3 linked regions of the Homo sapiens genome follow. The protein of the gene in region 1 purifies or fractionates together with the protein of each later gene. This does not show direct contact. Each region holds a gene or a part of one and is shown in the gene's direction. Other genes may lie near its edges.

Region 1 (4,321 bases):
ACTAGGAGCGTGACCACTGAAGCACAGCATCACAGGGAGACGGTTATGCCTCCGGGTAACTGTGGGCGGGCCTGTGGAGGAGTAGAGTCTTCTCTAAACTCCCCCGGGGAAAGGGAGACTCCCTTTCCCGGTCTGCTAAGTAGCGGGTGTTTTTCCTTGACACTAACGCTACCGCTAGACCACGGTGGGCTTGGCAACAGGTGTCTTCCCAGATGCTGGCGTTACCGCTAGACCAAGGAGCCCTCTGGTGGCCCTGTCCGGGCATAACAGAAAGCTTGCACTCTTGTCTTCTGGTCACTCCTCACTGTCCCCTCAGCTCCCATCTCTGTATGGCCTGGTTTTTCCTAGGTTATGATTGTAGAGCGAGGATTATTATAATACTGGAATAAAGAATAATTACTACAAACTAATGATTAATGATTCATATATAATCATATCTAAGATCTATATCTAGTATAACTATTCTTATTTTATATATTTTATTATACTGGAACAGCTCGTGCCCTCGGTCTCTTGCCTCGGCACCTGGGTGGCTTGCTGCCCACATCCACCAAGTGCACTTTGGGAGGCTGAGGCTGGAGGACTGCTGGAGGCCAGGAGTTCAATACCAGCCTGGGCAACATAGGGAGACCCCCCCCCCACCATCTCCAAAAATAAAAAAAAAAATAGCTAAGTGTGATGGCACATGCCTGCAGTCCTAACTATCGGGAGGCTGAGGCAGGAGGATCTCTGGAGCCCAGGAGTTGGAGGCTGCATGATGGCGCCACTGTACTTCAGCCTGGGCGACAGAGGGAGACGCTGTCTCTAAATAATAATAATAATATATAAAAAGATATACGTAACCCTACGGGCTCCCCTCTCACTGCTGTATACACCTGCCTCCTTCTGCATCCCTCACCCAATTGTCCCTCCCGGCTAACAAGCCAGCTGCACCCCCCAGGCAGAGGTCCTGCAGCAGTCGGTATAGGCAGCCTGGGCAGGGGGCTTGTCATAGATCTGCCTCTGGCCACGAGATCTTCTGCTCCCCCTACGGCTGCTAGCCGCAGCTGTCCACTACCCCTTAGCTTTATTCTCTCTATTCAGGGGCCTCCTGCTGCGCACTCCAAGGGGGTGCACGTTTCCAAAGAGAGATCAAGGGACATGGGGAAAGGAGAAAGGTACAGCTTGAGGTTCCCGCTCAGCCAGGACTAGGAGGCCTCTGTAGGGGCAGAACAGCCCTGCTGGCGCTCTGAGCATGCGCCGAAAAGCGCCCACGGGGAAAGCCATGCCGGGGTGCGGGGTGCGGGGTGGGGGGGAGCGGTGCGCTCGCCACTGACGCATGCGCAGAGGCACTGGTCTCTCTCGGGGTTTTCTCGCGCCTGCGCAAGATCCTCCAGCCCAACGGGGGGCGATGAGCCGATCCTTGGGCGGGTTTGCCCCGCCGGAGTAATCCGGAAGAGGCCTCTTATTAGGGCTCTGGTGGCGGCGGTGGCGGACACTTGGGGTCTGGACGCAACGGCGGCGGGAGCATGAACGCCCCTCCAGCCTTCGAGTCGTTCTTGCTCTTCGAGGGCGAGAAGTAAGTGACGCCGGCTGCGGAGGGCCTAGGTGCGCGGGCCTGCGGCTGTCGCATTCTGGGGTGTCTCCTGCCCATCTCTTGCCCCGGGAGGGAAACAGCTTTTGCTTGATCGTCTGCTCGGCCTGTGTCAGCCAAATTTAAGGCCGTTCCGCGAGGCAGTCGCGAGTGTGTCCATGTTGCAGATGAGGACACTGAGGCTTGGAGGCGAGCAAGTTGCCCCGGACACAGGAAGTGGCGGCGCTTGTATTCGAACCCAGAGTGTCTGGTTCTCCATAGCCCTTTTCCTCTGGGATCTGGCAGCTTCCTCTTTTTGTCTCTCGCCCGCCACCTCCATCCTTCATCCCCTCCGATCTGTCAGCGGCCTGCGTAAAAGCCGCAGTGGCTCCTCGCTGCCTGCGGGTTGAAGGAGTCCAGGGGAGAGAGCTTGGGCTCACTCTGTATCTGTGGGCGAGTGGCTTGATCTGTCGGAGGCCCTGTTTCCTCATCTGGAAAATGAGTTTATTACTGTACTTAAACGTGGGATTCAGGCCGGGTGCGGTGGCTGACACCTGTAATCCCAGCACTTTGGGAGCCCGAGGCGGGCGGATCACCTGAGGTCGGGAGTTCAAGACCAGCCTGACCAACATGGAGAAACCCTGTCTCTACTAAAAATACAAAATTAGCCGGGCGTGGTGGCAGATGCCTGTAATCCCAGCTACTCAGAAGGCTGAGGCAGGAGAATCACTTGAACCTGGGAAGTGGAGGTTGAGGTGAGCGGAGATCACGCCATTGCACTCCAGCCTGAGCAACAAGAGCGAAACTCCGTTTCAAAAAACAAAAAAAGGGATCTGGCCAGGTGCGCTGGTTCACGCTTTTAATCCCGGCACTTTGGGAGGCTCAGGTGGGAGGATTGCTTGAGCTGAGCACAGGAGTTCCAGGCTGCAGTGAGCTTTGATCGCATCACTGCACTCCAGCCTGGGCGACTGAGCGCAATCCTGTCTCAAAATAAAAAGAATTGGATGAGGTAATTTGTGTAAAACTCTTGGTCCAAAGCTCAGCCCCTGGAAAACCTCATAACCATTGGCTCTTATTGTTCCCAGGTTGGCGTGCAGAGGTCTTGGTCTGGCCCTTGCCAGCCACTTCGGCCTCCTTTAGAGCAGACTCTCAACTGGGGACCATTTGGCCCCACAAGGGACATGTGGCAATAACTGAGAACATTATTGGTTGTCAAAGGGGGTTATGACTGGAATCTACTGGGTAGAGGTCAGGGATGCTGCTGATGTCCTACAATGTCCACAAGACAGCACCCCACAGGAAAGAATGATGCACCCTAAAATGTGTGTGGTGTCAGCCTGGAGAAACCACCTTAGAAAAAAGGATATTCAACTTGATACCTCTCACCTGTGTGAGATTTTACTGTCAGCATAGTTGCCCTCAAATTGAGTGTGCATTAGAATCACCTGAAGGGCTTCTTAAACCATAGATCCCTGCGCCCCACCTCCAGAGTTCTGGGTCCAGTAAGTGGGAGGTGGGAGACTCTTAACAAGTTCCCAGGGGATTCTGATGCTGCTTATCTGGGAACTGCACTCTGAAAACCCCTTGTCTTGGAAAATCCAATGGAAGTTTCCTGTCTTTGTCCATCTAAGCGTTCACTAAAATCATAGTAAATGCCAGAGCATGACTTGTTTTGGGGAATGGATGGAAGGACTGCACACTCCAGCCAGGGGGATGGTTGCTTTCGGAACTCACAGGGTCAGGACCAGCCTCACCGTGTAACTTCAGGGCCTCTCTTCTTCACCTTTTGGTTGCTTCATTATGTTGGCGTAAGAAGAAAGGAACAGGCCAGGCATGATGACGTGCGCCTGTGGTCCCAGCTACTCAGGAGGCTAAGGCGGGAGGATCACTTTAGCCGAGGAGTTGGAGGCTGCAGTGAGCTATGATCACACCACTGCACTCCAGCCTGGGCAGCAGGAGAGATCATTTGAGGCGAGGAGTTCAAGACCAGCGAGGACAACAAGGCAAAACCCCATCTCTACCGGAAAAAAAAAAGGAGGAATTCAGAAAAGGCCAAGGTTCCATAGACCTGGGGTAGCAGGAAGTAGGGGACCGGGTTGGCGAGGCCTTTATGGGATGAAGAGATTGAGAAAGGCCTTCAGGAAGAGGCAGAGCTTATTTTTCCTTTTTATTTTTATATTTTTGATACAGAGTTCCACTCTGTTGCCCAGGCTGGAGTGCAGTGGCATGATCTCGGCTCACTGCAACTCCACCTCCCAGGTTCAGGTGATTCTCCTGCCTCAGTCTCCCAAGTAGCTAGGACTACAGGCATGGATCACCACACTCAGCTAATTTTTTTTTTTTCTTTGTATTTTTAGTACAGACAGGGTTTTGCCATGTTGGGCAGGCTGGTCTTGAACTTCTGACCTCAGGTCATCCATCCACCTCAGCCTCCCAAAGTGTTGGGATTACAGACACGAGCCACCACACCTGGCCGGGAGGAGACAGGGTTTAGACTCAGGGTGGGAGGAGGGGAGCCCCTGCTCCTCATCTGTGGCCTCTGTGTCTTCCTAGGATCACCATTAACAAGGACACCAAGGTACCCAAGGCCTGCTTATTCACCATCAACAAAGAAGACCACACACTGGGAAACATCATTAAATCGTAAGTTTCCCGTCACAGGCTCTCAGGGGCTATGTTTAATGGGCCCCTCTGGGCAAAGCACAAGTTCCAAGTCTTCCTCAGTCTCTCTGAGCTACAGGAAGTCCTTCTGGGGGCTTGCTCTGGGCA
Region 2 (3,645 bases), on another chromosome or scaffold:
CACATGCTTCCTGTTTTCTTGTCCTGTTACTGCCCCTTCTCCGCCTTCCCTTTTAAGAGGCAGCAATGCGTGATGGCTGAATCCCACTCCACCCGCTCCCGGCAGACTATCTTCCTGTCCTTGCTGTAGCTGCCCCAGCTCTGGCTCTGTCCATCCCACTGTTCTTTCTCTCTCTGCTCACAGTGCTGGGGGAAAGATGGCAGGGCCAGAGTAATAAGAGAGGCAGAATCTGACAAAGATCTTATGAACATGCCAGACCAGAAGCAGAGAGGCCAGTGGAAGCACTCATTTCCCAGAAACTAGATTATTTCATTAGTGATTAACAAAATAAGAAATTGAATTATGAGAGCCAGGAACCTCATGCCCCCGGAGGAGCTCCAGGCCAGCTGAGCAGGTTGGGTGGGGGTAGGCGTGAAGGAGGAAAATGCTGTGGGATTTGTTTCTGTATCCTGCCCCCCAGGAGCAGTATAGTTGCCTCCTCCTCATTGTCCCCACTCTCCTACTCCTTTAAGGGCTGGTACTGGAAAGTGGAGATGGTGCCTTCCTGACATATGTGGTCCTCCTTCTTCATCTTTTTCTCCTTTCTTTCTCTTTCTTCCTTCTCCTTCTCCTCCTCTCTCCCCTCCCAACAAATCCTTGGGGTCAGCAAGGGGCTGGAGCCCAGGATGGAGTGTGTCTGTCATATTTGAGACTTTCACCCCAGCCCCAGGAGTTCCAGTCCCTGGGCCATGCCATTTAGCCATAACCGAGGGTAGAAGCTGGCAGATCCTGGAACAGAAGTGGATGTGGCAGCTGCTGGGTGATGGTGGGGACCCCTGTGGATAGTGAGCTGAGCCGTTTGGGTAATACTATCATGCTTTGTCTCCCCAGCTCTGGCATTGCCCGTGACCCCTCAGAAAGAATGGCTGCACATGGACACTGTCGAGCTGGAGAAGCTCCACTGGACCCAGGACTTGCCCCCTGTCCGGCGGCAGCAGACACAGGAGGTGAGGAGGGCCACCTGGCCTACAAGGGGTGGGTGAGATAGGGCAGGAGAGGAGCTGCTGCTCTTGCCCTCAGAACTCAGGCCTTTCTATTGCCCAGAGCCTGAGAAGCATCTCTCCTTTGCTCTCACCCACCTTTACCATCACTCTGCCTGGCCCCCAAGGCCAGATAAGCCCCATTTCTGGTAGAAGTAGAGTCAGTACCTAAGTCCTGAAAGGCCTGGGATTAAAGGTGGGGAGTGGGTGTGGGAAGGTTGCTGGAGCCCCCAGACCACAGTCCTCTTTCTCTTCCCATTAGAGGATGCAGGCTCGATTCAGTCTTCAGGGAGAACTACTGGCCCCTGACGTGGACCTGCCCACCCACCTGGGTCTGCACCACCATGGAGAGGAGGCAGAGGTGAGGCATGGGACTGGAGAGGATGGGGCAGCTCTTTTAACAACCCCATGGAAAAGGATCTCTGGTCAACTGCCTTTGACCTTCTGTGTGCCCTGTTCTAGTTCATGCCTTTGCTGTGCATTCAGTTTCTTTTTTTGGAGACAGAATCTCGCTCTGGCCCAGGCTGGAGTGCAGTGGTATGATCTTGGCTCACTGCAGCCTCCACCTCCTGGGTTCAAGCCATTCTCCTGCCTCAGCCTCCTGACTAGCTGGGATTACAGGCGCATGCCACCACGTCCAGCTAATTTTTGTATTTTTAGTAGAGACGGGGTTTCACCATGTTAGCCAGGATGGTCTTGATCTCCTGAGCTTGTGATCCGCCTGCCTCGGCCTCCCAAAGTGCTGGGATTACAGGCGTGGCATTCAGTTTCTTAGGCTCAAAATCTTGATCCTCTCTCCGTATTCTGGTCAGTTGCTAGAATTTGCCGATCTTCTGTCACCTCCTCATGATGCCTCCTGCACTGTGGCCTTGCTTCCTTGGTCTGCTCACTCTCCATGCCCTCCATTCTCCGCCCCCCTGCCATTCCATGTCTCTCGGGGCTGCTGTGCTGATTTCTTCTGGCCCAGCTCAGGCCATGCCTTGCCTCCAGAAGTTTCCCAGCTTCCCTCTGCTCACAAAATAAGGTTCTGGTCTCAGCTGGGCAAGATATTCCTTCTACCTTTTGTCCCTGCTGACCCTGCTGCTCTGCCTCCTTCACTTCCTGCTACACCACTCTGCTGGCTTCTCCCCACATACCTCCTGTGCTCAGGGCCCTCCAGGACTCCACTCGCTCCAGGAAATGCCTTTGCCTTTTGCTCCATGTCAGGCCATCAAAGCTCTACCCATCCACTGAGACCAATTTAATTTTCCAGGTTCCCTTCTCTCTCTCTCCTGTCCGCCGGTCGCAAATTAAACATCAGTTATCACGTTCCTCTGCATCTGCCTCATGGCATGGTTACTTGTATGCAAGTCTTATCTTTACCGGCTTGAGGCTCCATGGAAAGCAGGGCAGATTTCACTTATTTATCTTTGTCTTTCCTGTGATACCTTGCTTGGTGTTTTGGGGGCACTGTGCTGTATCCTGGCTGCTTCTGACTTCTTGTCCCTGCCCCAGAGAGCGGGGTATTCCCTACAGGAGCTGTTCCACCTGACCCGCAGCCAGGTTTCCCAGCAGAGAGCACTGGCACTGCATGTGTTAGCCCAGGTCATCAGCAGGGTGAGTGGATTGCCAGCCTGGTCCTGCCCACCCTTCCCTTCACCCCACAGCCTCAGACTTCCCCATCTCCTGCCCTTTTCACTCTGGCTCACTAGCCAGCTATGTGCTTTTAACAACCTAGGATCATAGGGGGGCAAACGAAGGATTAGGGCAAAGCCTCTAGATAACTTCAGCATCTTCAGCAAGGTTTTACCCTCCTGCCCTCAGGCCCAGGCTGGTGAGTTTGGGGACCGGCTAGCAGGCAGTGTCTTAAGCCTCCTTTTGGATGCTGGTTTCCTCTTCCTACTGCGCTTCTCCTTGGATGACAGAGTGGATGGGGTCATTGCAACCGCCATCCGTGCTCTTCGGGCTCTGCTGGTGGCTCCTGGAGATGAGGTACCACAGGGATAGGAATGGGGCTTGGGCTGGGAGGTGCCAGGGTCCATATTCCTGTTCCTGGGCATGGCCCCATTGCTAAGGCTTTGCGGGCAAGATGTAGAATGGGATGGCAGGCGTCTCCCTCATCTCCTAAAGTCCCTAAAGCCCAGGAGGCTTGCCTTTATGGTTTTTATTGGGGAGCATCCTCTCTACTCCTGGATCCATTTCCTGGCCCCTTCAGCATTGCCCCCCAACTCCCGTTCCTCTGGCAGGAGCTCCTCGACAGCACCTTCTCTTGGTACCATGGAGCTTTGACGTTCCCTCTGATGCCCAGCCAGGAGGACAAGGAGGATGAGGACGAGGATGAAGAATGCCCAGCAGGAAAAGCAAAAAGGAAAAGCCCTGAAGAAGAAAGCCGGCCTCCACCTGACCTGGCCCGACATGATGTCATCAAGGTAAAGGGACAGCTTCTTTCCCATCCCATGGCCCAGGGGACAAGCACATGCTGGAAAGAGGGGCCATCAATGCCCAGGGTCCAGCTGCATTTGTCAGTGGGTTTCTCTCTCCAACTCCCAGGGGCTCCTGGCTACCAGCCTGCTGCCTCGGCTGCGCTACGTGCTGGAGGTGACATACCCAGGACCTGCGGTGGTCCTTGACATCCTGGCTGTGCTCA
Region 3 (3,498 bases), on another chromosome or scaffold:
TTATTAGTGGATGGAGATTCCCACAGCAAGGCTGCATTTGAATGATTTCCTTAGGATGAATGGTCCCTACACAAAGAGGCCTTGTGGGCAAACCTGGAGAACCCTCCTAAATCCATAGAGTTTTCAAAATGTGAATCTTTGGAAGCCTTGAGTTCAGAATCTGCTGCTCTGGAATATTTCCCTTCGATCTTATCTCAGTCACTTCGTTTTTGAGAAGAGTGATGCCTTGGGCATGCTTTTTTTTTTTTCTTTTTTAGAAAACAGGGAGTTGAAGTCCAACCTATTTAAAAACCCCACCATTTGGAGAATTACAAGGGTTTTGTCCTGAATTGTAGTGTTGGCAAGCCCAAGCCACTCGTGCTAACTGCTTTTTGTCTCGGTTGCTATTCCAAGAACAGAAGGAGGAAGTTGGCCAATTACAGCGTGTGTGCATGGATGTGTGTGGGGGGCGTGCCTCTCAGAAACGCGGCCAGAAGACAAGCAGGGAAGTGAAAGGTCCCAGGCACACACCCTGCCCATTGCAGGTGGCTCTTACAGCTCTCTGGTGCCAGCACGGGATCCCTGAAGTGACTCAGCCAGGCAGACATGAGACATGGCGGAGTGTCCAAATGGATCCTTTATTGGTGGTAGAGCAAAAAAACCCAAACACGATAAACCTTTCAAAAGACTTTCTAAGGATGATATTGGAATGCACCAGCCCTCACATGTGTATGCACATTTGCCAGAATATAAGAGTTTTGTTTTAAATACAGTCTTGTTAGGATTTTACGTTATTGTTATTATGGAAAGTGATTGTGATGCTATTTATCTTCAGGGTCACTCTGGGCAAAGAGAAGGTCCTCAGCCATGCCCCCAGCACCTTGCACATAGGTGTCTGATAAAAGTTTAAGAAAGTAAACACTTTTTGAGCACCAAATATATATAGGGCATTGTTCTGGTGGGTGTGTCACGCTCCCAGAAGACTGAATTCATGGTAGGATCACTCGCAAGGCCTTGTGAAGGAGTCTTACCTAAAACGAAAGAAATATCAGGGACTTTTGTTGACTATTTACAACTCAGTTTTACATTTAAATTCAGGCAGTGTTAATATGCCAAGGTAGGGAATGTGCCTTTTTCAGAGTTGGCCAGGAGCTCCTGGCTGGGACACGGAGAGGCAGGTGTGGCGTAAGGCCTCACTCCCGGCTGGGAAGGTCTCTGATCACACAGAAGCAGCCCTGCCCAGCCTGGTCATTTGCTGTCCGCTTTTCTCTGTGACCACAGCAGCCCTGAACAACCAGTATGTGTCTTCTTCTCCAGATAGTGAAAAAGGTGTCCAGATAAACCCACCTAAGTGAAATGGCCATCCTCTAAACTGGGTACCTCACTGCACAGCTTCTAGGTAGCCTTCCAACTTAATCTAACTTGAGCCTCACAGTAACCCTGTAAAGTTAGTAGAGCTTGTTCTTGTATTGTGACCTTTTTTAAAAAAAAGGAACTGAGGTTCAGAATGATTAAGGGCCTGGCCCCCAGGGTTGTCCAGCTCCATAAGGTGGAGCTGGGCAAGATTTTGGGTTTGCTGCTCCCTGAAGCTGGATTCTTTCATACGATACTCTTTCTCAAGAAGGGGGCTCCCTGGGATCTCCAGGTGTACTGCACTTACCCTCAATCCAGCCCCGGAGAAGCAAGTGAAAAGGGTGGGTCCCTCATAGGCTAGAATGTGCAGCTCTTTCTCCAGGTGGGATGTAGCACCCCGAAGTAGAGCTTTCTGCTCTGCTCCTGGAAAAGGCTAGGGAGCTGGGGCTGGGGCTCCCCTCCCATGACCAGGCAGTGGTCACCCCATGGGACAGGCACAGCTACTTACGCGAACACAGCAGGTTGGTGTGGCTGGCTAACTAGGACCTCTCGAAAGTCTCTGTGGGGGCATGAGGGAGAAAAGGCCATTGGGAGAATTACTGCCTTTACTTTGGGACTACTTTTATGCTGATAACTTGGGATTTCTTGATAGTCCTTCACCCCTGAAACCCCGTATTTACTTAACAAGATTTAGCTCTTAGTTCTTCAAGTAAAATTAAAGTCTCTTGTGTAAGAGCCAACACATGCCCAGCTGCGGATGGGAGCTGTTCCTGGACAGCCTTCTACTGCCTGGGAAGTGATGGAACAGGAACTCAGGGTGCCCTTACCCCCTCCCCAGACCTGTTCCCTTTCTTTGACTGACAGAGCACCATCCAGGCAAAATTAGAGCGCCAAATGGTTTTCTTCTCAATCTTAAAGCAGTATACCTTTCCACAGGCTCGTCTGTGTCCCTGCCACTCTGAGTTATCCAGAAACCACCACCTACAAATGAGGGGACTCATCTAGAAGACCTCTAAGGTCCCCTTTTGGCTCTGAGGGGTCTCTAATAATCCCCACTTGGAATTCAGCACCGCAAGGAAATTATGGGTATGTGAGCCATAATATGATGGGCAGCAGGTGGCGCTGCCTTCCACCCATGGTGATGGATGGTTTGGAAAGGGAATGTTGGTGCCTTTTGTGCCACAAGTTAAGATGCTACTGTTTTAAAGGAAAAAAAAAAAAAAAAGTACTGATCTTCAATATGAAGACATGAGCTTTTCTCGCAGGAAATTTTCTTTTTCACAGAACTGGTGTCAGGAATCACTGAAGGGCTAACCGTGATAGTCCTTGCAAGTAAGTCAAGGTTTTATCCTGATTGGAAATAGAAGACATTTCCGGTTGAGAGAACAGATTCGTTGGAAGCTTAACTTTTGTTGCCTCTTAACGCCACCAAATTTTAGGGTAATTTGATTATGAAAGAGTGAATTTTTCTGGACAGAAAAGGGAGAGCTACCAAATTGTTTTTTTCTTTTTAAAAGGAAGTTTAATGTCCGTTGTATCACAAATCAGTGTTAAAACACCAGAACTTTAGCCAAAATAAATGTCTTACATTACAAAGGTATTGTTTTTTTGTCCTTCTTATCACAGTTGGTATTCTTTTACGTTTTTATGCTTAGCTTTTTTTGTTTGGGCTTAGCTTTTATATTTGCGATTTCTAACTTTTTAAAAATAATCATCTAAAACATAGCCGTTCTGAGCTAGTTATAGGTTCCATGATGGCACTGTTTATGCAGTAGATATTGATGAACACCTTTCCAGTACCAGAAATGTTCTGGTAGGAATATTCTTAGGTAGAATGGCCATAATGGTCCTGAATGAAGGAGGTAAGGTTTGTGCTTCTAAGAAAGCAGGGGACTAGGGTGTTCATCTCAAGGTAGCCTCACGTGATGACTGGGTGACATTTTGAGATTTGAGTGATCCTGCAAATGAACAGTCCCTAAACATATCCCCTTCCCCCAGATGCCTTAAATTCCACTATTGGTGCTATGTTCCTTTGAATAAAAAACCTTAGAGAAAGTAGTTGCCTTTTCCTCCCAGACAGAAGTCTGGGCAGAGAAAGCCTCTCGAGGTTCCCATTCCCTCTATCACATGAAGCAATTGGACTCGCTTCCTGTTTGTCAAGACTCT

Evidence for each region.
Region 2: the proteins of POLR2J2 (region 1) and RPAP1 purify together in Homo sapiens (co-immunoprecipitation; one large-scale study listed by IntAct). This does not show direct contact.
Region 3: the proteins of POLR2J2 (region 1) and DUSP3 purify together in Homo sapiens (co-immunoprecipitation; one large-scale study listed by IntAct). This does not show direct contact.

Annotation. Positions count from the first base shown.
Region 1 is NC_000007.14:102,668,789-102,673,109, reverse strand, and holds the start of POLR2J2 (DNA-directed RNA polymerase II subunit RPB11-b1), read left to right. Parts: upstream 1-1,446; 5' UTR 1,447-1,508; coding exon 1,509-1,558; intron 1,559-4,105; coding exon 4,106-4,195; intron 4,196-4,321. UniProt on the Homo sapiens protein: DNA-dependent RNA polymerase catalyzes the transcription of DNA into RNA using the four ribonucleoside triphosphates as substrates. Component of RNA polymerase II which synthesizes mRNA precursors and many functional non-coding RNAs.
Region 2 is NC_000015.10:41,527,205-41,530,849, reverse strand, and holds part of RPAP1 (RNA polymerase II-associated protein 1), read left to right. Parts: intron 1-870; coding exon 871-986; intron 987-1,281; coding exon 1,282-1,380; intron 1,381-2,513; coding exon 2,514-2,615; intron 2,616-2,822; coding exon 2,823-2,990; intron 2,991-3,244; coding exon 3,245-3,427; intron 3,428-3,548; coding exon 3,549-3,645. UniProt on the Homo sapiens protein: Forms an interface between the RNA polymerase II enzyme and chaperone/scaffolding protein, suggesting that it is required to connect RNA polymerase II to regulators of protein complex formation.
Region 3 is NC_000017.11:43,765,555-43,769,052, reverse strand, and holds the end of DUSP3 (dual specificity protein phosphatase 3), read left to right. Parts: 3' UTR 1-2,928; downstream 2,929-3,498. UniProt on the Homo sapiens protein: Shows activity both for tyrosine-protein phosphate and serine-protein phosphate, but displays a strong preference toward phosphotyrosines. Specifically dephosphorylates and inactivates ERK1 and ERK2.